3 separate regions of the Homo sapiens genome follow, and all the other regions are linked to region 3. Evidence: fine-mapped expression QTL. A gene starts in region 3. Each other region holds a variant in brackets. All regions are shown on one strand. Distances are from middle to middle.

What was found.
Region 1: its variant is fine-mapped to the expression of MSLN in T cells (TOPMed, PIP 0.90).
Region 2: its variant is fine-mapped to the expression of MSLN in iPS cells (iPSCORE, PIP 0.95).

What each region holds. Positions count from the first base shown.
Region 1 is chr16:798,116-806,283 of GRCh38, forward strand. GNG13 (G protein subunit gamma 13) reads right to left here and starts at 2,619. Exons shown (of 3, transcript NM_016541.3): 1 at 2,551-2,619; 2 at 865-996; 3 at 1-709. The coding sequence starts at 962. The coding sequence ends at 604. RefSeq lists enhancers at 2,308-2,857, 2,858-3,407, 3,408-3,957, 4,775-5,319, 5,864-6,407. The variant G/A (reference allele first, on the strand shown) is at 4,001.
Region 2 is chr16:781,529-789,696 of GRCh38, forward strand. RPUSD1 (RNA pseudouridine synthase domain containing 1) reads right to left here and starts at 6,853. Exons shown (of 6, transcript NM_058192.3): 1 at 6,728-6,853; 2 at 6,028-6,216; 3 at 5,826-5,949; 4 at 5,549-5,651; 5 at 5,299-5,400; 6 at 3,446-4,849. The coding sequence starts at 6,209. The coding sequence ends at 4,422. CHTF18 (chromosome transmission fidelity factor 18) reads left to right here and starts at 7,092. Exons shown (of 22, transcript NM_022092.3): 1 at 7,092-7,247; 2 at 7,403-7,597; 3 at 7,682-7,832; 4 at 8,019-8,168. The coding sequence starts at 7,157. It also overlaps the pseudogene MSLNL. RefSeq lists an enhancer at 5,319-6,126 and silencers at 6,576-6,665, 6,686-7,145, 7,326-7,385. The variant C/T (reference allele first, on the strand shown) is at 3,770.
Region 3 is chr16:756,754-764,921 of GRCh38, forward strand. MSLN (mesothelin) reads left to right here and starts at 3,981. Exons shown (of 18, transcript NM_005823.6): 1 at 3,981-4,068; 2 at 4,320-4,421; 3 at 5,919-6,012; 4 at 6,480-6,523; 5 at 6,889-6,938; 6 at 7,270-7,390; 7 at 7,894-7,973; 8 at 8,154-8,168. The coding sequence starts at 5,928. RefSeq lists promoters at 2,562-4,411, 3,917-4,397, 3,919-3,937 and enhancers at 3,228-3,753, 3,919-3,937.

The sequences.
Region 1 (8,168 bases), 41 kb after region 3:
GGGCCGGGCGTGGGCTCATAGGATGGTGTGAGTGGGGCCAGGAGTGGGGCTCACAGGATGGTGGGAGTGGGGCCAGGCGTGGTCTCACAGGATAGAGTGAGTGGGGCCGGGCGTGGTCTCACAGGATGGAGTGAATGGGGCCGGGCACAGTCTTACAAGATGTTGTGAGTGGGGCCGGGAGTGGGGCTCACAGGTTGGTGTGAGTGGGGCTGGGAGTGGGGCTCACAGGATGGAGTGAGTGGGGCCGGGAGTGGGGCTCACAGGATGGTGGGAGTGGGGCTGGGAGTGGGGCTCACAGGATGGTGGGAGTGGGGCTGGAAGTGGGGCTCACAGGATGGTGGGAGTGGGGCTGGGAGTGGGACTCACAGGATGGAGTGAATGGGGCTGGGCATAGTCTTACAAGATGGAGTGAGTGGGGCCGGGAGTGGGGCTCACAGGTTGGTGTGAGTGGGGCCGGGCATGGGCTCACAGGATGGTGGGAGTGGGGCTGGGAGTGGGACTCACAGGATGGAGTGAGTGGGGCTGGGCACAGTCTTACAAGATGGTGGGAGTGGGGCCGGGCGTGGTCTCACAGGATGGTGTGAGAGGGGCCGGGTGCGGGGCTCACAGGATGGTGCATTTGCCCTTTTCCACCCATGGGTTGTTCTTCATCAGGTCGGGGTTCAGGAAGGGGTCCTTGGGGATCCCGTCCTCGATCCACTTCAGCAGCCTGCGGGTGGGCGGGTGGCAGGTGAGTGGTGGCACCTGACCCCCGAGGGCCTCCTGCTGCACCTGCCTGTCGGCGGCGGTGGTCGTGGCTATGGAAATGAGCAGCCAGCGCAGGGCAGACAAATGAGAGGCAAATCAGGCAGGTGGGGCACTCACTCGGGGATGGTCTTGGACGCCATCTCCCGCTGGAAGGCCAGCTGGTACTTGAGGCTCTCCACCTCTTTCTTCATCTGTGGCACGTCCCACTCCTCCATGGGGTCAGGGGCTTCTGAAGCAGCCAGCCTGGGGCTGGAGGGCACAGGAGGAAGCCACAGGGCCGAGGCCACCAGCCTGTAGTCCCCACCCCCGCTGCTCCCCGCAGGCCTGAGCTGAACCCCGCAGGATGAAGCGGGGAGAGTCCACACCACTGCCTGGGCCAGTCCCCTAGGCGTTGCTAGGGTGCAGGGCACAGAGCGAGTTCCCACAAGGCCCCAGCTCCCGCCTCCTGCACTGGGACTAATTAACTGCAAGAAACTTTACATCCTCAGCTACTCCCCCATAGGCCCCCACACCTTACGAAGATCCCTTGCAGGCAGGAGAAAGGGTGCTCAGCACGGCAGGCCCCCAGCTCCTACCCTCCCACTGAGGCCCACGCAGGCTGACCCAGACCACGGTGTGAGGTGTGGGGCGAGGTCCTCAGGAGGTGGCCCCTGCCCCGCCCCGCTGTGTGCCCCTTTGCTTTGCATGGCAGAGCCCAGTCCAGAGCCAGGACTCCTGGACAGGAATGTTCTGCTGCAGTTTGCTTCTCTGGCAGGTGGGGTGTGTGCTCAGGATCTTGGGGGCTCAGGCTATACTACCCGAGTCTGGGATATGGGCTGTGGGTGGCCCCTGGGTCCCCAGTGTGTCTGGGAACCACACACGTTACCTGCGTGCTTTCTGCTTGTGGCCAGCCTGGGAAAGCCACAGGTTGACACCCCTCAGAACTGCCACAAGTTCGAGGCAAGTGGGGGTGGGTTGCCCCCTGCCTCTCCCCCTACCCACTCCAGGGGCCCAGGGAGTCCCTCACTCCGTCCCAACTCTGGCCCCCGTCCCCAAGGTTGGGAGACAGGGCTGAACCTTGGGAGGGTGGGTGGGGGTTGGCGTCAAGTTTCGGGGAGCCTGCCTCTGGCTGTGAAGGGGGCTCCTGGCCCAACAGTCTCCCCATCCTTTGGTCGTGCAGCTGCACCGGCCACCTAGGGAGGGGCCCAGGGCCTGAGGCTGGTGGGGTCCCGGTGGTGAATTGGGCAGACTCCCAGCAGCCAGCAGAGGGTCTGCCCGTAGTGGGGTGGGAGGCCGGGGAGCGAGCGGGGGCAGGTTTCTGGGGGAGTGATCAGGGTCATGCAGAGGATTCCCTCCCGGAGACTCTGGAGTTCCAGCACCCCTACCCGCCCCCATCCCCGGTGCAGGCCTTTTCTCGGAGACCCTACACTCAGCCCCGTGGGCGCAGGACTAGCTGCGTGCGGGTCCTCCCAGGCCCGGGGTGTTGGCGCCCCGCCCACAGCCCAGTCCTTGCTGCCCAGCCCTACCTTCGCGCAGCTGCCGCCAAGCCTGGCCACCCACCCCGTGCACCCCGTGGACGCCCCCAGCCACGGGACTCGGTGGGCACTGCAGGCGGCGCACGGCGCTCAGATGGACACAGCTCCCCCGCACCGCGAGAGCCGCCTCCCTGCCTGCAGCACCGGCTCGGGTTGGGTTTTGCTGCCTGCGGGGCAGCTGCCCTCGCCCCGGGAGTTAGGGTGAGCCCAGGGGACTGACCTGGGCCAGCTGAGAGTCGAGGGGCCTCCGGGCCCTCCCTAGCCCCGGGCGCCTGTTCATCGGACCTACCTTGAAAAGGTGACAGCGGAGGGACAATGACAACGGCCAGGCGACCGCGAGTGAGAGCGAGGGCCAAGTGATGTTCCGGGAGTCCGCCAGGCAGAGCCCTGGCTGTGCCCCGCCCCTCCCGCCACCTGGGCCCTGGCGCCGCCCCCACACCCTCCTCAGGGCTGGGCTGACCCCAGAGATAGCCTGTGCTGCCCCCTCCCCTGGGCTCACCCAGCGGATGGACATGCAGCCAGGGGCCAGTGTGGGGCTGGTCCATTTTCCCTGAGGGGCCAGCTTGGGCCCTGGTGGAGAGGTCTCCTTCCACTTGAGGGGGTGGGTTCCCCCTCCAGTGTCCTGGGCCAGCCGGGAGGAGTGGGGATGGGGCTGGGACCCTTTGCCCTCTGAAGCCTCTGCAGCCTGCAGGGTTCAGGTGACACTCAGCTGTGCCCCCCTGACAGAGGCATCCTGTGTGGGCCATGTGGCTCACCCTGGGATGTGAGCCTCTTACTGCTAGGGGCCCCGGGGCTCTGTGGAGCTCCCTGCTCCAGCCCGATCCCCTGTTCCCAGACCAGTGGCCGGCACGGGGCAGCTCCCGAGGGCAGGAGAGTGCCGTGCTTTTCAGTCTGATCTGAGCTGAGAGTGGCGGCCTGAGGCGTCCCCAACACCGGTCCACTGTGGGTGCTCTGGGGCACGCTGCCTCGGGAGAGGTGCCCCCAGCTGCAGCACTTGGGCTCGGGTTGTGTGACCTCAAGGCTCTGGGGAGAGGGCTTCCCTTTGGGGCTCCGCACCTGTCAGCCTGCAGAGCTGAGACTGGCCCCTTTTCCTCTGACACGTTTCCCCGTGTCTCCTCCCACCCTGCCCTTGGGTGTACCCCTTGGGCTCCTGTGGGAGCTGTGCCCTATGTACCAGCAGGTGACGTACATACCAGGCTGCATCCTAGGTGGGGGCGCCCAGGCAGCAACAGCAGCCTCTGGGGGCACAGGGCCAAGCTCCCCAAACAGTCCCTGCAGAAGCTGGGCCACCCCCGGGGAAGCGTGGGCCAGGCCCTCGGTGGGTGCTGGCAGGGCCAGGGGCCTGTGAGCAGGTCACTCTGCCTTCCCCAGTGTCACAGGGAACCGCCCGGCCTGCCTGGGGTGGCCCAGACCTCTGCAGGGGTTGTCGGGGAGAGGTGGGCCCTGTCCCTCTCAGGCGCTCAGGTCCCTGAAGTCACTCAGCAGGACTCCCTGCCAGTGTGACTCCGTGAATCGGGGCCACCTGCACCTCCCGCCCTGATGTGTGTCGGCTGGATCAGAGGCGCCTCTGGAACTGGGGCACATTAGGGAAGGGATTATTTTTATTATGGATTTGGGGGTGGGGTGGGGCAGCTTAAAGCCCAGGGCACGAGGCCTCCTCCTCAGGGCAGATGGTTGCCCCTCTTGGCATGGTGGGGGCTAGACGTCTCCCTGATCCCAGTGCCCGCCCTGCCCTGCCT[G/A]TGCCCCCTGGTGCTGTGACTTCGGATGCACCTTAGTTTCTGGGCTGCTGAGGGCTCTCCCTGTGGCTGGGGGCACCACTTTGGGCGCCAGAGAGTGGAATGGCTGTTAGGGGAGGGGTGTGTGCCACCCCAGGATGCAGGCAAGGCGGGGGGGACCCCAGGGCATGTCCCCCACGTTCCCTGGGACAGCAGGTGGCTTGGAGCCAGGGCCAGGCGGGGGAACACCCTGAGGTCCGCAGCTGAGTTGTGAGAGCTGGGGGTTCTGTGGCCACTCTCAGGACCCCAAGCGGCCTTTGCATCTGCTCATCTGGAAGGACCTAGGAGGTCTCCTAATGGGGTCGCCAAGGCTCCAGGTTCTGGCTTTTGGTCAATTCACTGGACCCAGTAAGGTCCCTGAGGGTGCCTGAGCTCTGTCCAACACGGCCAGTGCCCCCAGTGAATCAGGACACAGGTTGGAGTGTGGTGTGGGCCACCAGGACAGGTGAGACGGGCCGTGGGGTCACGTCCTGGAGTGAGCACTGCCCTGTGGTCCGGGCAGGTCCTGCCAGTCCTCAGCATCTCAGCAGAGAAGTGGCTGTGTGTACCTGCATGGTGGACCCGGCCTGCCTACCTGAGCAGGGTCTGGGTGACCCCCAAGGCCAAGGGCAGGAGGAGGTTGAGGGAAGTGGGGGCAGGGCCAGGGCAAGCTGAGGGTTTTGGGTCTGCTGCAGGCCCATGTCCCAGGCATGTGATGTGGGTCCCGTCTCTCACCCCACTTCTGTGGCGTTTCTGGTCGCTGGGGGGGCACCAGTCAGCCTCGGTGTCGTGTGGACCCCCAGAATCAGAAGCAGGTCCTGTGCTGACCTGGGTGGGTGCAGTAACCTCTGCTCCCGTGTGAGGGGCTGTGAGGTCCCATCCTCAGTAAGACGGGGGTCTTGAAGACTGACTTCGACCTTCCTACCAAGGCTGCACTCGGAAACCCCCAAACACATCCGGGCGCTGACGCCTTGAGCTGGAGTCAGCCTCGGGTCTGGAATCTGCCTCCCCCGGCCCTACAGCTGGACCCGGCTTCAGCGATTCTCATTGGGAGGAATGGCAGCCAGTCCCCCAACGGAGTGACCACAGCCTCCCGAGGCCAGGGGCTCCTTTCTGAAATTAGGCCACTAATTGGGCCGCTGGCTGAGAACACGCAGGGCTCTTTCCGCTGCCCTAGAAATAGCTGTCCCTGGCCCGAGGGGCTCTTGACCCACCAGGCGTGGGGCTGTGCCGCTGGGCCTGGCTTGGGGCAGGAGCATCGAGACCTCCCATTTACAGCCAACCAAGACCGTGGGGGAAGCACAGGAGGCCGGAGGCCCTTCACGCTGACTTTAGGGCTTGGTACCACACTGGCATAGGGGGCTCTGATCCCTTCCTAGCGGGAAGCTGCAGCAGGGTCTCCCGGGACTGGCCTCTCGCTGCGGCCTCAACTCCGAATGGGTGGGGGAGACAGCCCCCGACACCAGTCAACTCTCCGGGGAACAGAGGGATAAAGTGCTGAGCTGGGGACCAAGGACCAGTCCCATCCTCCACCCGCCTGTGCCCTAGGCTCTGCAGAGGGCTCTGGCTGTCCTAGGGGGACCCTGTGGCCTGCAGGACCCAAGCAGCCCGGGGGTGGTGGGTGAATGTGTGTGGAGGACACGCTGACTTCCCTCAGTCCCTGCAAACAAAACTGCAAGCGTGGGGCCTGGGGAAATAACGAAGGCAGCTCCTCACCAAAGAAACTCACTCCGCCTAGTTAACTGGAGCTCACGGCAACGACTTTTCTGTCATCTGTGAAAGTTTCAAAGTGATTTTCAAAAACAATTGAAGCTCTTAAACCCAAGCACAGAAAACACAACGGAAAACTTCAAGGGATGGGGTGGGGGGAGGGGGGAGGGATAGCATTAGGGGATATACCTGATGTTAAAAGACGAGTAAATGGGTGCAGCACACCAACATGGCACATGTATACATATGTAACAAAGCTGCACGTTGTGCACATGTACCCTAAAACTTAAAGTATAATAAAAAAAAAAAACAACTTCAAGGGAGTCCCGGGTGCGTGGCTGTCATCCACACCTGACCTCCATTGTGTAGTCAGGGGCCTGCTGGGGGCTTGGCCGTAGCCACGCTCGCGCTGCAGCCTCGGGGTAGCGTGCCTGCCTTAGCTCGGTTTACTCTGAACAGCTGCAGGTCAGTGCGTGGTTACAGTCGCCGGAGGTTTCCTACTTAAGAGACGCCCGTCTCCTGAAAAGCTAGGTATGTCTTTGCTAACCAGAAGCATGGCCTGAGGCAGGAGGTCCTGGAAGGACAGAAGCAGGCTGGGCGGTGGATCCCCACAGGCTCGGACGCCCTAGCTCCTGGCCTGAGGACTGGAGGTCAGTGTGTCACCAGGAGCAATGCCAGCTGGGCTCCCGGGGATGGGGTGCTGCCCCCATTCGGAACTTGAGTGTGTTTAAGGGGAACCGACGGGCAAAATAACAGCCTGCTGGGTTCAGAGGCCCCCACTGCCGGCTCCACCAAATTACGCTCTTCCAAGAGTACCAGCTCAGAAGTCGCAGATTTTCCAAAAGAGAGACACATTTGCTCAGCCGAGGGTGGTGGGAGGCCTTGAGGCGAGACCTTTCCAAGGTCTGTGGGGGAAGGGAAGGGAGAGTGAGTCGCGCCTTCTGCCCCAGGCCACCCTCCGGTGTGTCGTGGTCCCTGGGGCGGCTTTCCTAGGAGCCCGTGATCCGCAGGGTGGTGGCCAGAGCCGTGCAGCAGCCTGACAGGGCTTCTGGCTTTGGGAGAGTCCCTGCCCACACAGACGGACACTTGCTTTGGGATGACTAGGCTGGGTGCAGTGGCTCACACCTGTCATTCCAGCACTTTGGGAAGCTGAGGCTAGAGGATCCCTTGAGCCTGGAAGGTGGAGGCTGCAGTGAACTGTGATCATGCCACAGCTCACAACAGGGAGACCTTGTCTCAAAAAAAAAAAGGGATGACAAAGGTCCCGTGATTTTGCCTAAGGACACCTAGAAGTTAAGACGGTGTGTTCTGGCCTCTGGCTGTCCCCACGGCTTCATTCAAACATCCCGGGCTGGGTGGCCACCACTGTAAGTGCATCAGGGCCCAAGGACCCGCCTGTACCTCTAACCACAGGACATGCTGTGAATCCAGGTTGGCCTCTAAGACCCTGGATGGGTCACGCCACAGCCCATCAGGGATCCTGGGACCCCCAGTGCAGGGGATGGCCCTGCTGCTGCTTCCGGGGCTAGGGAAACCACAGAATGTCCAGTCTTCCAAATCTGATTGGCAAATGGGTTTGGCAGAGCCTAGCCAGATGCTAGGATGGCCCGAACTGACCAGAAGCCCCCGTGCAGAGGTGGCTGCTGGGGACAGCCAGGTCACCCCAACACGGGTGGGGCAGCTGCACACCCCACTTACCACCCCATGGGTCACAGGCCTCGAACGTGCATCCTGCTACGTGGAGACCAGACCACAGGTGGCCAAGCTCCGTCTCGGGAAATAAGCCTGGGGCCCTGGGCGGCCGGCACTCACTTCCTGGCTATCTCTACCACCCCATGGGGCAGGAAGACACCCGCCTGCATTTCTGAGCTCCCAACCAGCTCAGGAACAGCGCAGCCGCTCGCAAATGCAGTGTGCGAGGTACAGACCGTTCCAGGGCCTGGCCTGCGCCCACAGGGAACTCCTGCCATGCGGGCCCCTTCTCACAAGGGGACACCGCCCACCCCCAACCCCTGGGGCCCAGAGCAGCCCCAGAACAGACACAAGCATCCCAAAAAGGGGGTCACTGGGGTAGATGCACACATCTGGGGACCCTGTGTGTCATCCCAAGTGGGCCATAGCCCTGGGCATCTGGTCTTAGGTCCCAGGGCTTTGCCAGCAGAAGCCTCCAGGTGTGCAGGGTCTGTGCTAGAGGCCTCCAACCGGCCACCATGGGCTGTCCACCCGTGTGGCAGCACCCGGGTCCCTGCAGCGCCTGAGACTCCTCGCACTCAGTGGACAGCAGAGCGCCCCTGAGCAGCCTCGGTATCTGCAGATGCACAAGGCTGGCTGGGGCAGAAGCAGGGGAGGGAGGGGCTCTGAGGAAGGCGCCTGCGTCCCCACAGATCAATCACTTGATGTTTGACATGACCTGCAAACGTTTTATTTGCAAAATACAGAGAGT
Region 2 (8,168 bases), 25 kb after region 3:
CGGCCCACCCCTCTCAGGGAGGGTGAGGCATTGGGCAACCCTGGCCTCAGAGCCCAGCCCTGCCTGTGGCCGGACTGCCCGAGAGAACGCTGTCTCCACTCACCCCCACACCGTTTCCCCAGAAGCCATGTCCAGCTGCCTGGGCCAGGAGTGGCCCCCTCTAGCCAAACTTGCCTGCCCTGCCTCACCCTCCCAGGACCCCCATGCCTGCTGGGGAGGGCTGGGCTCACAGTGCCCTGGCAGCCCGACCCCCGTCCTGCTGCTGCTGGGCAGGGCCCACCTTCTCCTTCCTTGGCTTGGGACAGACCCTCGCTCAGGAGAATGGGGTGGCCAGGGCCCTGGGCACTCCCATGTCTACGGGATGGCTTTGCCATGAGGGCCTGGCACTCTGGAGGCCCCCTTTCTGCATGGAGGTCTCGTCTCACCCACTCTGGGGCCCACGTCTGTGCGGCGGCGTGCACTGGTCATCCTGGCTGAGACGTCCCAGGGCAGGAAGGTGCTGGGGCCAAGGGCAGTGGGTCCAGGACTAGCTGGAGAGGCGTGACAGAGGCGAGACACAGGTGAGACACACAGGTTGGCCCCGCACTGCCTCCCACCCCCTGGGGTGTGGAGAGGGAGGGTGCAGTCTAGGTTCACCCAGGGCAGCGGGGCCAGAGCTGCGCCTCTCCCACCTTCGAGGGGAAAGGATCCCATAAACAGTAAAAGGCAGGAGCAGGGAGCGGGAGCCGGGTGAAACCCTGGGGCCTTTCTTATTGCAGGTCGGGGCCTAGGGGACCCATGGGCTGCTGGGTCTCCAATGAACAGATTTCCAACAAACAGCGAGTCCCCCAGGCAGCCTCGTGCAGCCCTGGCTTCATCCCCACACCCGGCAGCCCTGGCAGCTCCCTTTCCCTCTTTGAGCCCCAGCTGTTGGGCTCTTTCGCTGACATCCAGCCCCCAGTGGCAGCTGGGGTAGCCTCAACCATGCTGGAAATGGAAGCTGCAAGGCCAGGGACCCTAGAGGAGTCCGGTACTGCTGTGGGTCACTGCCTCCTCCTGGAGCCAGCCTGATGGCTTTTGGGCACCTCTGGGCCTCCTGACTGTGGCCCAGGAGGGAGACAGGGAGGCTGCCCCATGCAGAGGCAAATGCAGAGGTTCAGGCCCAGCCACAGGTCCGGGACCGGCCCTGCGGGTGGGCTGGTGGTGGCTCCCGCCAGCGTTTCTCACCTGAGCAGAAACCCTGGGTGTGGTGGAGGGAGGTGCTGCCCAGGCTGTGGGGTGGCTGCTCCTGGCAGGGAGTTGTGGACCAGGTGATCCAGACGCAATCCCAGCCCGCCAAGTGCGTCAGCCGCTACCACTGAGCGCCCGGGTGCAGAGGCGGTGCAGGGCGGGGATGCCGGGGTCCCCGCTCACCTCCATGCCTGGCCTGGCAGGCGGCATGAGACTGCCTCGCCCCGCCCAGTCCCACTCCCACGGTGACGCCCGCCAGGCAGTCCTGTGGGGGAGGCCCGGGCTGTGCCAGGCGATGCACCGCGTCAGCCCCTGGGGACCTCAGGCACAATGGGCACCTACTCCCTTCCCCTAGAGCAAAGGCTGAGCTCACGGCTGGCAGCTGCCCAGCTCACACCCCTCCCCACCCACTGGGGCCCTGCTCTGCAGCGTCTGTGCCCCAGGGGTCATGTCGTGCGCCTGCACCTGAGTCTGCCGTGTTTGCTGGTGCCTGCGTGTGCACAGGTGCCTCTCGGGCCTCCTGGTCTGTGTGCCCGGGAGCACGGACACAGATCCACCATGTGTGCCTCTGCGGGGACATCAGGCAGACGAGTACCCAATGCGGGGGCCAGGAATGGTGACGGCTGCGGCCATTCCGTGGGTGCCGCAGCTCAGAGGTGGGCAGGCAAGAGCACCCAAGTATGCACTGTCGGGCTCCACCAGGCAGGCCAGGGCAGGAGAAGACACAGGAGGGACTTCCCAGCCCACCTGCCAGGCTTCTCCCCTCACTGGGACAGGGTGCTGGGTGACCCAGGCTGAGCCCTGGCCTGGCCCACCTACCCCAGCTCTCATCTTGGGAGAGACTCAGCCCCTGCTTGGCAGGACCTGCAGCTCAGGTTCAGCTGTGGAACCACCACCCCCTGCACCACAGCTATGCTATGGGTGCCCAACAAGCCAGCTCCATGGCCAAGCTGAGACTTGACCCCCGATCTGGGTCTTCTGGAGGCTGACGGCAGGGGAACTGGTAGGTGACTGCTCCCCAGGCCTGCACAAGCCCACAGGAACCCAGGTGCCCCTTTGAGAGCTCTAGGCTGACAACGAGGCACGGGCACCATGAGGGACGGCGCTCAGGCCTGGCTTGTTGATGAGGGTCCGGCTCAGGTCAGGCCTTGAAGGCCCCTTGGCCGGCTGTCAGCTGGGCCAGCCCAGCTGGACACAGCGGCTCCAACAGCTGCTGTTGGGGCAGTGAGGTCGGCAGCCCCCAGTCTAGAGGGGTGGGGCCCCGTGGGGCAGGGTGGGGAGACTGTCCCAGCCAGAGAGGGGAGGCGTGCCTGGCCCTGACTTGGGCTGATTCAGACAAGGACCAGGAGGAGGCCTGGAGATAAGCCAGCCCTGGGGGAGGGGAGGCCGGGGCCAGGTGCCCGAGGGTGGACACGTCCCGGGGCTGGCCAGGGAGGAGCCTCGAGAGTGATGGGCGTGCTGGCCGGGAGGGCTTTGCTGCCGCACTCTGTTGGGGTGGCCGACTGGTGCTACTTGAGGGTTATGCGGTCCCTTCGGATCTGCACCAGCCCCTTCCTTTACAGATGAGGAAACTGAGTCATGGGAGCAGCAGCAGTGAGTCCAGGGCCTGTGGCCTCACCTCAGGGACTCTGGGGCTGGAACCCACGTCTCGGCTGAGGGCACGGTGGCAGCTGCCTCCAGTCGGGCCCCGGTGGGGACTCCGGGTCTGGAACCCGCGTCTCGGCTGAGGACACGGTGGCAGCTGCCTCCGGTCTGGGCCCCGGTGGGGACTCCGGGTCTGGAACCCGCATCTCGGCTGAGGGCACGGTGGCAGCTGCCTCTGGTCCAGGCCCTGCTGCTGTCACCGCTGGGGTCGTAACCAGGGTTTCAGGGCTGGCCCCGGAGCTGGACAGTGGCAGGCAGGGGCCAGGCGGACCTGAGACCAAGTGCTGGCCCATGAGATGCCCCTTCCACAGAGCTCTGAGACTTGGGCTCTACGAAGATCCCTGGCTGGACCAGCTGGGTATTCCCATGGCTCTGGTTGTGGGGGCTGGGGGTTGTCCGGGGCCGGCCCAGGGTCTGTGCCCAGGCCAAAGCTGCACGGTGCTTGCTGTCTGCAGGAGAGGCCGATAGGAGCCTGGACCACTGCGTCTGTCCTGGGTCCTGCTGGGGCCTCAGGGCAGGGAAGAGAGCTAGGAAAGGTCTGGGTGGCCAGACCTGTCCCTTGGAAGCCCCACTTCGGACACGTTCACGGTCATCCTTGGAGCCAGTCACTGAACATTTATTTGGAGTCCCTGGAGCCCTGCTGTAGCCAGGAGCCCAGGTTGTGGCATGGGGGACAGAGGAGGTGGGACCTGGCAGACCCACAGCTCCCAAGCTGGGGTCCCGGAGGCAGAGTGACAATGCATGGCTGTGTGGGAGCCAGGCAGGCGGTGACGTGGCAGAGCTGCCAGCAGGGGCCCAAGAGACTGCAGCAGGTTGGTGCTCACAGTGGATCTGAGGGATGGGCGTGCGTGGCAGGGCCTTGGCCATGGCCCCTGACCAACCCCTGTGCACCAAACACCACACTGAGCTCAGAATC[C/T]GGGCAGAGAGGGAACCACTGGTACAGTGAGGCCAAGGCACACGCAGCCGGGCCTGCAGACTCGAGCCCAGCAGGGACCATTAGGTCTCGGGAGGAGGCAGCTGAGGGCGACAGGATCTGCACAGAGCAGTGAGGGGCAGAGGACGCAGGGACCAGATGGGTCTCCCAGGCCAGGTGAGCCCAGAACGGCCCTTCCCAGCCCCTCTAGAGGGTAGGTTGGGGGCAGTAGCTCACCAGGCCCAGGAGCAGCCCATCCTGGAGGCAAAGCCTATCCCAAAACCTGGCCCTGCCTCTTCCTGAGGTGACCTTGAGTCCGTAAAACTGACGCCCCTGGGGTGACGCTTGAGAGCCGGAAGCTGTTCCAGGAGGAGGGAGGGGCCTCGGTTTCTCCCGGGGCATGTGGGCAGGAAGGCCCTCGGGATCCCGCATCAGTCCCACGGCCGCGGTGCGGTCGTCACCTGTGATCACGGCTGCCTGGCGCCCCCTGCCGGCCCCACCTCAGCCCTTCCTCGCAGGCCTGGCCGGGGCAACCCAGTGGGCCTGATGCTGCCTGGCACCTCGAGGCCCCAGAGCCAGTGAGCAGACGCTCGCTCGCCCATCTCCCTAGAGTCCCGCTGTGCAGCTGACACCCCCTGCCCCAGCCCCACGGCTCTCAGCTGTCCGGTTCCAGCGTCCACTCCGACAGCCACTGCAGGCAGGGGCCCCGCTGTGCCTCAGTCTCAGGGGGCTTGGTTGGGGGTGGAGGAGGCCGGCCGGGCCCAGGCAGGAGTGCGGAGGGGCTGCCTGGCCTGGGGCCCCTATCCTCGGGGTCAGGGTCGGGGGTGGCCCGTAAGGCCTGCACGAGCTGGTCCAGCGACTGCAGCAGTGTGTGGGGGCTCCAGCAGGCATCCAGGGAGGGCAGGAAGGGGTCAGGCGTGCAGACCTCCACACACTCGGTGTCCGTGGGGATGCGCAGGTAGAAAGCGTGCAGCATCATTCTGAACGGCCGGTCCTCCCGGCCCGAGACTTCTCCGTAGGTCAGGTCGCCCACCACGGGGTGGCCCAGGGCACTGCAGTGCACGCGCAGCTGGTGTGTCCGGCCTGCGGGATGAGGGCGGTGCCGGATCAAGCTGGGAGCGGGGCCGATCCACACCTATCTCCCTGACCAGGACCCACCTCCCGTCATGACCCCGCTGCAGTCTTGAAGCAGCCTCTTGGGGTGGAACTCTCCCTGTCCCCTGCCATGAGTGAGGATGACAGTATTTAGGACAGAAGATTGTGTTCAGGTCACCACTGGTGAGGACAGGGCCAGGGTGGTGCTCGGTCCTGGAGAATCTAGGCCAGCCAGACCCCCAAGGAATCAGTCAGGAGCCAGCAGGGACCCTGTGTCAGGTGAGAAGCTGAGAGGCTGCAGGGCGTGGAGTTAAGAACGCAGGAGTGCTTGTTGCCAGCTCTGCCCTGATGCTCAGGGTGGCCCAACATAAGCTTCGTGGCCCTGTGCCTCAGTTTCCCTTCTGTCACCACCAGGACACCGCCCACCCCAGACACACCCGTGAGCGGCTTCAGCAGCACTTTGGAGACAGGATCGCCTGCGTACAGCCCGTGTTCCAGAACCACGAGATCTGTGAGGCTTGGCTTTGGGTTCTCACAACCTGGGGCGCAGAAGGCAGGTGTGAGGTTAGTGGGACTGACCCGGGGCCCAGGCCCACCCCAACGCACGATGCCCGCCCGGTGGGTCCCTGCCTGCCCAGGCCCACCCCAACCCACGATGCCCGCCCGGTGGGTCCCTGCCTGCCACACCCTGCGAGCCCTCGATGCACATGGTGTGGGCCCGGCCCTCCGTGCTGTTCCTGCCAATGGCATGGCTGATGGTTACCCGGCTCTCCTGGATGTGCCCCCGCAGCTGCAGGAGAGGGAGAATCGCACGCAGTTCACGGGGCAGCCCAGTGCTGCCGGGGAGCCCACCTAACACCAAGCAACCACGTAGAGCGTGGTGGGAGGCTCTGAGCCAGGGCTGCCCAAGTGGGGTGGGAATCCTGAGTCCCCACGCCCCACCCCAGGACTGACCAGGTCTTACCAATGCCAGGTAAGCCTTGGTCACGCGCCGCTCCTTGAAGCACCTGTACGCGCTGCCGGCGGCTGCCTTGTTTAGGGCCACGCACAGCGCCCCGCTGGTGGAGAAATCCAGCTGGTGGCAGAACCTGGAGTGGGACAGAGTCCAGAGTCTGAGCCACTTTCCTCCACAGACGCCACCGTGGGGCTCCGGCCGCCCCCCCTACCTGAACCCGTAGCAGGTGTCAGGGTCGGCCAGCTCGGGAAAGCGGTACCGCAGCTGCTTCTGCAGGGTCAGAGTCTCCCGCCACGCCTTGCTGTCAATGCGAACGTCCCAGTGCTTGTTGACCACCAGGAAGTCGCGGCTCCGGTACACGATGGACAGGTTCTCCACGCTGCCTGGCTCCATGGCCGGCCTGCCGAGCCACGCGTGGGTGCGTGTGCTGTGAGCACGTGGTGCGCCCCCAGCCCAGCATACAGAGGTACCCGCACCGCCCCACCCGGGCTCCGGTGCGAAGCCACCGAGCCGGGTCCGCAGCCCTACTGTGCACCTGCATCCTCAGTCCCCGAGATCAGTCCCCAGGGCGTCAGCTGGGGAGTCAAGGAGTCAGCCTGCTCCGGGCTGACCTGAAGGGCCCTGCCTGACCTAAGCCTGGAGAAAGAGCCCGTTCCAAACCTGCCCCACAGATCCTCCCCACAGACCCTCCCCTCCAGGGGATGCACGTGAATGCCTCTGCCCGACGGTGGGGGCGGGGAGGGGCTGCAGCACTACCAGGCCCGGCAGCCAGGTCTGCCCGCAGCGCGGGTTAGGGCTGGGGCCTCCTCGCTCCCCGCAGTCCGCGCAGACCCGCGCCCCGCACAGGCCCGGTGGGCAGGCCGACCCTGGCTCCGAGCCCCTCCCGCGCCCACGCCCACGCCAAGACCAACCTGCTGCCGGGCCGTGCAGTCCAGGCCCCCGATGCCGTGCCCGGCGCCGGCTCCAGCCGCGCGCCCGCGCGCTGGCGACCCAGAGACCCTGGAAGCTCCGCTCCGGACGCCTGGCAGCGCTTCCGCCCTGCACCGCTGCGCGCGCAGCCCCGCCCCCCCCCCCGGCCCGCCCCCGGCCCGCCCCCGCCGCGGAAGGGCGGCTGCGGCGGCCAATGGCGAGCTCCCCAGGACAGGACGCGGGGGCTGCGGAGCAGGAACTCGCCCCGCCCACCCCTCGCGCAGCCCCGCCTCCGCCACGCCAACCAATGGCGCGCGCCGCCGGGCACGCCGGCTGCTGATTGGCGGCGCCCGGCACGCTCGGGGCGGGCAGTGCGCGACGGCGGCGGCGGCGCGGGAGGTTCGGAGCGGGAGCTCGGGCTCGCGGACGGTATGGAGGACTACGAGCAGGAGCTGTGCGGCGTCGAGGATGATTTCCACAACCAGTTCGCGGCCGAGCTGGAGGTGCTGGCAGAGCTGGAAGGTGGGGCGCGGCCCCCGGCCGTTGGGGAGGAGCTGCGAAAGCCGGGACAGTGGCGACCTCGGGGAGGGCGTGCCGGGGGCCGAAGGGGCCTCCACGTCGCCGCTGGCGGGATCTGCTGTCTCGGGGCGGCCGCTGACAATCTCCTCTCCCAGCAGGGGCGTCGACTCCGTCGCCCTCCGGGGTCCCCCTGTTCACCGCGGGCCGACCCCCGCGGACGTTCGAGGAGGCCCTTGCCAGAGGGGACGCGGCCTCCAGTCCCGCCCCAGCCGCATCTGTGGGCAGCAGCCAGGGCGGCGCCAGGAAGAGGCAGGTGGACGCCGACCTGCAGCCGGCCGGGTCCCTGCCCCACGGTAGGTTGGCGGCATTGCCCCAGGGCCTCCGGAGTGGGCGCGAGGCTGAGGAGGCCTCTGGTTCCCTGCATGTGTCTCCCCCAGCCCCCAGGATCAAACGGCCTAGGCTGCAGGTGGTCAAGAGGCTGAACTTCAGATCGGAGGAGATGGAGGAGCCGCCCCCTCCCGACTCCTCGCCGACGGACATCACCCCGCCGCCGAGCCCTGAGGACCTCGCAGAGCTTTGGGGCCACGGGTGTGTGGCTTGGACATGGGCGTCCCATCCCATCTGTCCAGTGGGACTCAGATGGAGCCCATCCCGTGCCCTGGATGAGGCCTGGGGGGTGGGGAGGGTTCCATGGCTGAGAGCAGTCTCGGACACCCATATCCAAGGGTGACCCCACGCTTGAGTTTCTGCCACTGAGCCCCGGTCTCTCTCCAGAGTCTCAGAAGCTGCTGCCGACGTGGGTCTCACACGGGCCTCACCAGCTGCCCGCAATCCCGTCCTGAGGCGGCCCCCCATCTTGGAGGACTACGTCCACGTGACATCCACGGAGGGCGTCCGGGCTTATCTGGTGCTGCGTGCTGACCC
Region 3 (8,168 bases):
CAGGGTTTTCACCCAGGGTGTGGTTATAGCTCACTGCAGCCTCAAACTGGCCTCAAGCTATCCTCCCACCTCCTCCTCCCAAGTAGATGGGACTTCAGGCCTGCGTCACCATGCCTGGCTAGTTTTTAAATTTTTTGCAGAGATGGGGTCCCATTATGTCACCCAGGTTGGCGTGCAGTGGCGTGGTCATAGCTCGCTGCAGCCTCAAACTCCTGGGTCAAGTGATCCTCCCACCTCAGCCTAAAGTGCTGGGACTACAGGCATGCACCATCACACCTGGCTTTTGTATCTTTTTGTGTGTGTGTGCAGTGTCTGTTTAAATCTTTTGCCCATTTTTAAATAACAGCTTTACTGAGAGATAATCCACACTATACAGCTCACCCATTTACCCATTGGAAGTACCGTTCGGGCCCAGTGTGGTGGCTGCAGCCTGAAATCCTAGCATTGGGAGGTCAAGGTGGGCGGATCGCCTGAGGTCAGGAGTTCAAGACCAGTCTGATCAACATGGTGAAACCCCGTCTCTACTAAAAATACAAAAATTAGCTGGGCGTGGTGGCACACGCCTGTAATCCCAGCACTTTGGGAGGCCAAGGCGGGCTGATCACTTGAGGTCAGGAGTTTGAGACCAGCCTGGCCAACATGGTGAAACCCCGTCTCTACTAAAAATACAAAAATTAGCCGGGCGTGGTGGCGGGCGCCTGTAATCCCAGCTACTCCGGTGGCTGAGGCAGAAGAATCGCTTGAACCTGGGAGGCGGAGCTTGCAGTGAGCCGAGATCGAGCCACTGCACTCCATCCTGAGCGACAGAGGGAGACTCATCTCAAAAAAGAAAAGGAAAGAAACTCCATACCCCTTAGAAGTCAGTCCTCCTGACTGGTCTCCCTCCCGCGGGTCTTACGAAACCACTCATCTACTTCCTGTCTCTCTAAATTGACCCACTCTGGACGTTTCATCTAAAGGGACTCGTACGACGTGTCCGTGTTTCCAGGCTCAGCCGCGTTGCAGCACATATGGCCTGGGTTTTACGGGATTGTCTGTCTTATCATTGAACTGCAAATGTTCCTTGTCAATTCTGGGTATATGTCATGCAAATATTTCTCTTATTCTGTGGCTTGGCTCTTTATTTTCTTCACGGCATCATTCAAAGAGCAGCAGTGTCAGTCATGGTTTCTGCCTTCTTTCTTCCATCTAACAGGTCTTTGCCTGTTCCAAGCCCACAAACACTTCCTCTTGAATTTCCTTCTAATGGTTTTATAGTTTCAGCCTTTATACTCAGGCCTATGGTTGGCTTTGAGTAAATTTTGCATATAATATGAGGTAGGAATCTACGTTCTTTCAATCACATAGACACATAGATATGGCCGGGCATGGTGGCTCATGCCTGTAATCCCAGCACTTTGGGAGGCCGAGGTGGGCGGATCACGAGGTCAGGAGATCGAGACCATCCCAGCTAACACGGTGAAACTCCATCTCTACTTAAAAAAAAAAGCCAGGCATGGTGGCGGGCGCTTGTAGTTCCAGCTACTCAGGAGGCCGAGGCAGGAGAATGGCATGAACCTGGGAGGCGGAGGTTGCAGTGAGCGGAGATCGCGCCACTGCACTCCAGCCTGGGCGACAGAGCAAGACTCCGTCTCAGAAAAAAAAAAAATCACACAGATATTCTTATTTTTCTTCTTTCTTTCTTTCTTTTTTTTTTCAGTAGAGACGGGGTTTCATCATGTTGGCCAGGATGGTCTTGATCTCTTGACCTCATGATCCACCTCGGCCTCCCAAAGTGCTGGGATTACAGGCGTGAGCCACCACGCCTGGGCTTTTTTTTTTTTTTTTTTTTTTTTGAGATGGAGTCTCGCTCTGTTGCCCAGGCTGGAGTGCAGTGGTGCCATCTCGGCTCACTGTAAGCTCTGCCTCCCGGGTTCACGCCATTCTCCTGCCTCAGCCTCCCGAGTAGCTGGGACTACAGGCGCCCGCCACCACGCCCGGCTAATTTTTTGTATTTTTAGTAGAGACGGGGTTTCACCGTGTTAGCCAAGATGGTCTCGATCTCCTGACCTCATGATCTGCCTGCCTCGGCCTCCAAAAGTGCTGGGATTACAGGCGTGAGTCACTGCGCCCGGCATTTTTTTTTTTTTTTTTTTTTTTTTTGAGACAGGGTCTTGCTCTGTTGCCCAGGCTGGAGTGCAGTGGCGTGATCTCGACTCACTGCAACCCCTACCTCCTGGGTTCAAGTGATTCTTCTGCCTCAGCCTCCTGAGTAACTAGGATTACAGGCATGTGCCACCACGCCCAGTTAATTTTCATATTTTTAGTAGAAACGGGGTTCCTCCATGTTGGCCAGGCTGGTCTCGAACTCCTGACCTCAGGTGATCCGCCCACCTCGGCCTACCAAAGTGCTGGGATGACAGGCGTGCGCCACCACACAGGGCCTCATTTAAAGATTCTTTATAGAGATGAGGTGTCACTACGTTGCCCAGGCTGGTCTTGAACTTCTGGCCTCAACGGACCCTCCCGCATCGGCCTCCCACGGTGCTGGCTGAAGGGTGAGCCCAGGCTGGCCACAGCGCGTTTTCATCATTGTCCGCAGCTTGCAGTCGGCTGGTTCAGAGCTTAGCCGGGCACATGGGCCCCTCTGAGGCTCCTGTTCAGGGCTCAGCCGTGTCTACGGGGCCCTCCGAGCTCTTCCTGGACCCTCCTCGGCTCCTTCAGTTCAGGGCTCAGCTGGGCACGTGGGCGCCTCCTTGGCTCCTCCGGCTCAGGCCTCTCCTCGAGCTCTGGGCCCTGAGTATTCTGGGCTCCTTCCTTGGTTTCCTTTGGCCTTTGGCCGGGAAAGTTGTGGGTGTCCGTGGCAGCCTGGGCCACTTCACAGCCCCGCAGCCAACCTGCGGCTCCTTCAGAGCAAAGCTGTGTGGACACAAAGGGAACGCCACTCGGAGCTGGCCTCTCCCTTTACCTGTGAGTTCCCGCCCAAGCCGGCTGCCTTCTGTCCCCTCCCCAGAGCCCTTGGGTAACTGGTTTGCTACAAGAGTGTCTGGAATTTTTCAGTTGTTCTCTGCGGAAGGGAGTTTTTAAAAGGCCCTTAATCCCTTCTTGACATTTGTAAGTTGACGCTTACACCTGGCAGCCTTGCTGAATTCTGTGTGCGTGAAGGTCCGATTCCACCGCGAGTCACGATAGAAAACCCACTCTGTGGAGAGACCAGAGATGACCGCCGCGCACACCTCCGTTCAGCACACAAACCTTTGCAGGTGTTCATAGCGGAGGCAGATTCCGTACTGGGGATAAGAGCTCACGACATGCTGGGAGGGGTTTCAGGGGCAGGGAGGGGGCTTCTGTGGCCCCAGGTCAGGAGGAGCAGCTCTTCCATCAGCAGCAGGCAGCCAGCCCAGATGCGTAGGGAAGACAGCTCCCACTTCGCCAGGCCAGAGAGCGCCCGGGGGCAGCTCTGTTCCAGTCGACCCTGCGAGAAAGGGGTGTGCGTGTGCCTGGAGCTGGGCCCCGTCCTGCCTCCCTGACCTGTGTGCTCCCACAGCCCTGAGACGGACGGCTCACAGCCTTGCGAGGCCCACACTGCACTGGGGGTCAGGCTTGTGCTCCCGGGAGTCCTGTCTGGGCTGCGTGGCCACCATCCAGAGCCTGCTGACCTGCGACTGGGGGGGCCAGTGCTCCCTGGGTTTCAGCACCTGAGAATCAGAGTGGGATCCCGTGAAACCTGGGCCCAGGCTCCCACCCACGCCCCACACCCACCCAGGGAAGCCATGAAACCTGGGCCCGGGCTCCTACACATGCCCCACACCCACCCAGGGCAGCCGTGAAACCTGGGCCCGGGCTCCCACCCTCGCCCACCGAGGGCAGCTTTGCCTTCCTGGGCATCCCTCCTCCCCCAGGCCTGGCCCGCTGCCTGTCCAAGGCTCCTGTGCGGGGTCTCCACCCACACATTCCTGGGGCGTGAGGCGCCACCACTCCCTGCTGCCCCGGGCAAAGCCGTCATTTGTTCCCTTTGACGGCCCGGGAGGCTGCCAGGCTCTCCACCCCCACTTCCCAATTGAGGAAACCGAGGCAGAGGAGGCTCAGGTGTGGCCAATCACCCTGCACATCAGAGTTACCCTGGGCAGGGCCCACTGAGACCTGGGAGGGGCCACTCGGGACCTGGAGGGCTGGGGGCTGCCCGGGCGTTAGGGGTAAAGCTCCCTACCCAACTGCGCAGAAGGCCTCAGAGGCCTGGGGGCTGGGCTTCCCCTTTCACATCGCCCTTTAGAGGCCCACGTGTGGGCATTGGCCCGCGATCTGAAAGGGGCTGTCCTGTTCCTCATGGGCGCTGCCAGCGCCACGCACTCCTCTTTCTGCCTGGCCGGCCACTCCCGTCTGCTGTGACGCGCGGACAGAGAGCTACCGGTGGACCCACGGTGCCTCCCTCCCTGGGATCTGTAAGTAACAACCTTTGAGCTCTTCCTGTTGTGGTGTGGATGGAATCTGCACCTTCCATCTGGAGAACTGGGGCCGCCCCAGGCCGGGCTTCCAGCACCAGAGCGATGGTCAGGCTTCAGCTGGACGCAGATTTCACCCCGCAGGGCACACGCAGACCCATTTGTTTGGAAGCGGCAGTCCTAAGGCAGTGCAGGTGCCTCCACGGCCCCAGCCCAGCTCTCCTGCAGGTGTAAAGGATGCAGATTCCAGGGCCCCCCATGGCCTGCAGAGGCCCCTCAGAGCAGGAAGGGCCGGGCTCTCGGGGAGCCCCCATCCCAGGTGCTGAGGTCCTTGGGTCACATGGAGCTGGGGTGGGGAGTGCCCAGGTCCCCTGTGATCCGATGGCCACGTTTCCCTCCTGGCTTCACGCACCCCAAGGGCTGGGGGTCCCACTCACTGCCCATTTTCTGGCTGTGGGGGGGGTCTGTTTTCTTCCACCTTCTCAAGGTGTTCAGAGCCTCAGGGGCCTCCCCACTTCCTCTGGGGCCTGGGGGAGTAGAGTCTGTCACCCGGAGGCTGTGTGCCTCCCCGCGACATTCCCCAGTGGCCGGGCCGACCAGGCAGGCTCTGCCTGTGGATGGGGCTGCTGAGCATGAGCGTGTGACCCCCATTTCTGAGCTGTGGGTGGACCCACCGGGCCTGGGCCAAGGTTTTCAGGAGGCAGCTCTATTCTACTCCGCCATGGTGGCCTCCCTGAAAGGGGTGAGTGTAGAAGCCAGTTCCCTCTTCTGCGAGCCCCACCCCTACCCCAGGAGGACAATTCTTGTTCAGGGAGGGTCTCCCCACCCACTTCCCCACCCCACAGTGGCCCACAGGCCCCACCCTAGAGAGTACAAGGGGCTCCCCAGGCTGCTCACTGGCCCAGCCCCGCCCCACCTGGACTGCACCTGAAAATGGGCTCAGAGAGGCCAAGTGGCCCAAAAAGACGCTGCTGGGTGGGAAGGGGCGGTGGCCTCTGTGCCCGCAGTGCCCCTCCTGCCTCAAGGGTGTTGTCTGCCTGGCAGAGCCTGGGGTGTTCACAAAGCCCAGGCACCTGCAGCTGAGGGCAGGGGAGAGGGAAGGGAGCCACATCCAGGCGACGGGGCTGCTCGTCCTCCTGTGCGAGAGTGGGGAGACTCAGGCCAGCCCAAGTGGGCGGCGGCCCCGGTTGCTTGATCTAAGCTCTGCTCACACTGCCCTGCCCTTCTGGGAGAGGGGTGGGCGCCAACTGACTCCTGGGCTGTCTGGGCTGGGGACCGGGATCTCAGACCCAGCCCCTCCCCTGGACAGGAGGAGCCAGTCCAGGGGACAGAGGGCTCAGTGGCTGGAGGGCAGGGCCAGGGTGCGGACACAAGCTGCAGGTACCACAGAAGTTTGCTCTGGGAGCCCCTCCTGGGCCCATGTGGCCCCAGGCTGGCCCAGGACAGAGGCGTGGGGTGGGAGCAGGGGGTCCCATCCTGAGTCACTGCCCTCCACAGACACAGACCATGGCCTTGCCAACGGCTCGACCCCTGTTGGGGTCCTGTGGGACCCCCGCCCTCGGCAGCCTCCTGTTCCTGCTCTTCAGCCTCGGTGCGTACTTGATGGGGCTGCTGGTGAGGTGGGGACGGCCCAGGGGCCTTGGGGGCCAGGCCCCCAGCAAGGCTTTGCCTGCCCCTGCCTTCTCCCTGGAGTGCCTGTGGTGGCCACGTCTCAGCAGCAGTCTCTGCCCCCAGAGGTGACTGGAGCTGGAGATCCAGCCAGGGAGTGATGGGGCTCAGGACACAGTGGGGATGTCTGTGGGATGGGTGGTCTGACCGGCCAAGCAGCCGGGTCTCAGGGAAAGATGTGGAAGGCCGGGCTCCCTGGTGGAGTCCCGACCCCTGTGCCTGGGGGACTGTGATGTCACGGGGTACATGGGCCTGAGCCACTGGCTTCTCTTTGGGGTGTGCACAGGGCTGGCTGTGGGGGCGGCCAGGCTCTGCCTCCTTCCTCCCCTGGGTCAGGGCACAGCCCAGAGGCCCGCCCCCTCCCCCAAGCTGTCCCCTCTGCCCCTTTAGGATGGGTGCAGCCCTCGAGGACCCTGGCTGGAGAGACAGGGCAGGTAAGGTCCCCTCTGGGGAAACAGGGGAGGGTCTTCAGGTCCCAGGTGGGGGTGCCATGCTGTGTTCTCTCTGTCACGTATCCACGGTGCTTGCCAGTTTCCACGGTCCTTGCTTGCAAAGGGGCACCTGGACCTGCATGTGACTGGCCTGGGAGCAGCCAGGTCCAGGGAGCGGCAGAGCTGAAATTGCAGCTGGGTCTGGGAAGTAGATGGATGAGAAGCAGCCAAGCCCATGGGTCTGAGACACAGCCAGGCCTGGGAAGTAGCTGAACTCGGGGAGTACCTGGCCCAGGGGTAGCGGGACCTGGGAACTCCTGCTCCAGAGAGCTGGTCTGAGCCATGTTCAGCAGGCCCTGTGTCCCCAGGAGGCTGCGCCCCTGGACGGAGTCCTGGCCAACCCACCTAACATTTCCAGGTGGGTCTGGGGTCCTCACAGTCCTCAAGGGTGAGGCTCGAGGGGCCCTCGGGACTGAGGGTGGGCAGGGCACCCCATCCCCCAGCATCCCCTCCCCCTTCCTCCTCTGCTCCACCTCAGATCTGACTGGGCTCAGGACTGCGGGAGGGACTGACACCCCTCAGGTGATGGCAACTCCCGGCCCTTGAGGGCGTCACCTGGTCTTGGGGGGAGGTCTGCAGGGAGCACCAGGGTCCTTTGGGGAGAGGTGGGGCTGTGGGGCTTGGGGAGCACTGGGTGGACATTGCAGGGGAGGGGCGATCGTGGGTGCCCAGCCCGACCCTTCCTGCAGCCTCTCCCCTCGCCAACTCCTTGGCTTCCCGTGTGCGGAGGTGTCCGGCCTGAGCACGGAGCGTGTCCGGGAGCTGGCTGTGGCCTTGGCACAGAAGAATGTCAAGCTCTCAACAGAGCAGGTCAGTCTCAGTTGGGCTGAGGCAGGTGGGCACAGCTGGGGCTGAGGAATTCACAGGCAGCTCTGCAGTGCCCACCTTGCCACCACGGTCCCCTCTGTCCCTGCTGCCATCTCTCCCCGGCCAGTTCTTCCCAGAGTTCCTCTGGCCACCCAAGCTGACCACTGGGGTGCCTGTCCACGTCAGGGGCTGGCTCCCCAGGAGCAAGTCTGATATGACGCTGTGTGCTGGGCCCCCTCCTGGAGCGCCGTGGGCAGCCCTCCAGGCTCTGCCCCAAGGGTGAATCTTTTTCGGGGGAGTGGGTGAGATCTGGGGAAGGGGAGCGGAGCCAGGCACGGGAGCCCCCATCCCCCAGGGCAGCGCTGCAGGCGGCCAGAGATCCACTTCCACAGATTCTCGTGGCCAGGGCAGGGGTGTGTTGTGGTGGGCAGACTGGCCAGGCGACCCTGGCCCACCATGTGAGTGGCGGCTCGAAACGCTCTGTGCTGGACTCCCTGCCCCTGCAGCTGCGCTGTCTGGCTCACCGGCTCTCTGAGCCCCCCGAGGACCTGGACGCCCTCCCATTGGACCTGCTGCTATTCCTCAAGTAGGCCCTGCCCCCTGAACCCACCCCCCCGGCTTTTGCCGCCAGCCCTCAGCCCCCAACCCCCTGCCCCTTGCCTCGGATCCCAGGCCACAGCAGAGATGTGGAGGCCGGCCGGGCTGCCTCTCAGGGTGGGGACGGGTGTGATCAGTGCGGCCTGTCCCCAGCACCCTCTCTTCACAGCCCAGATGCGTTCTC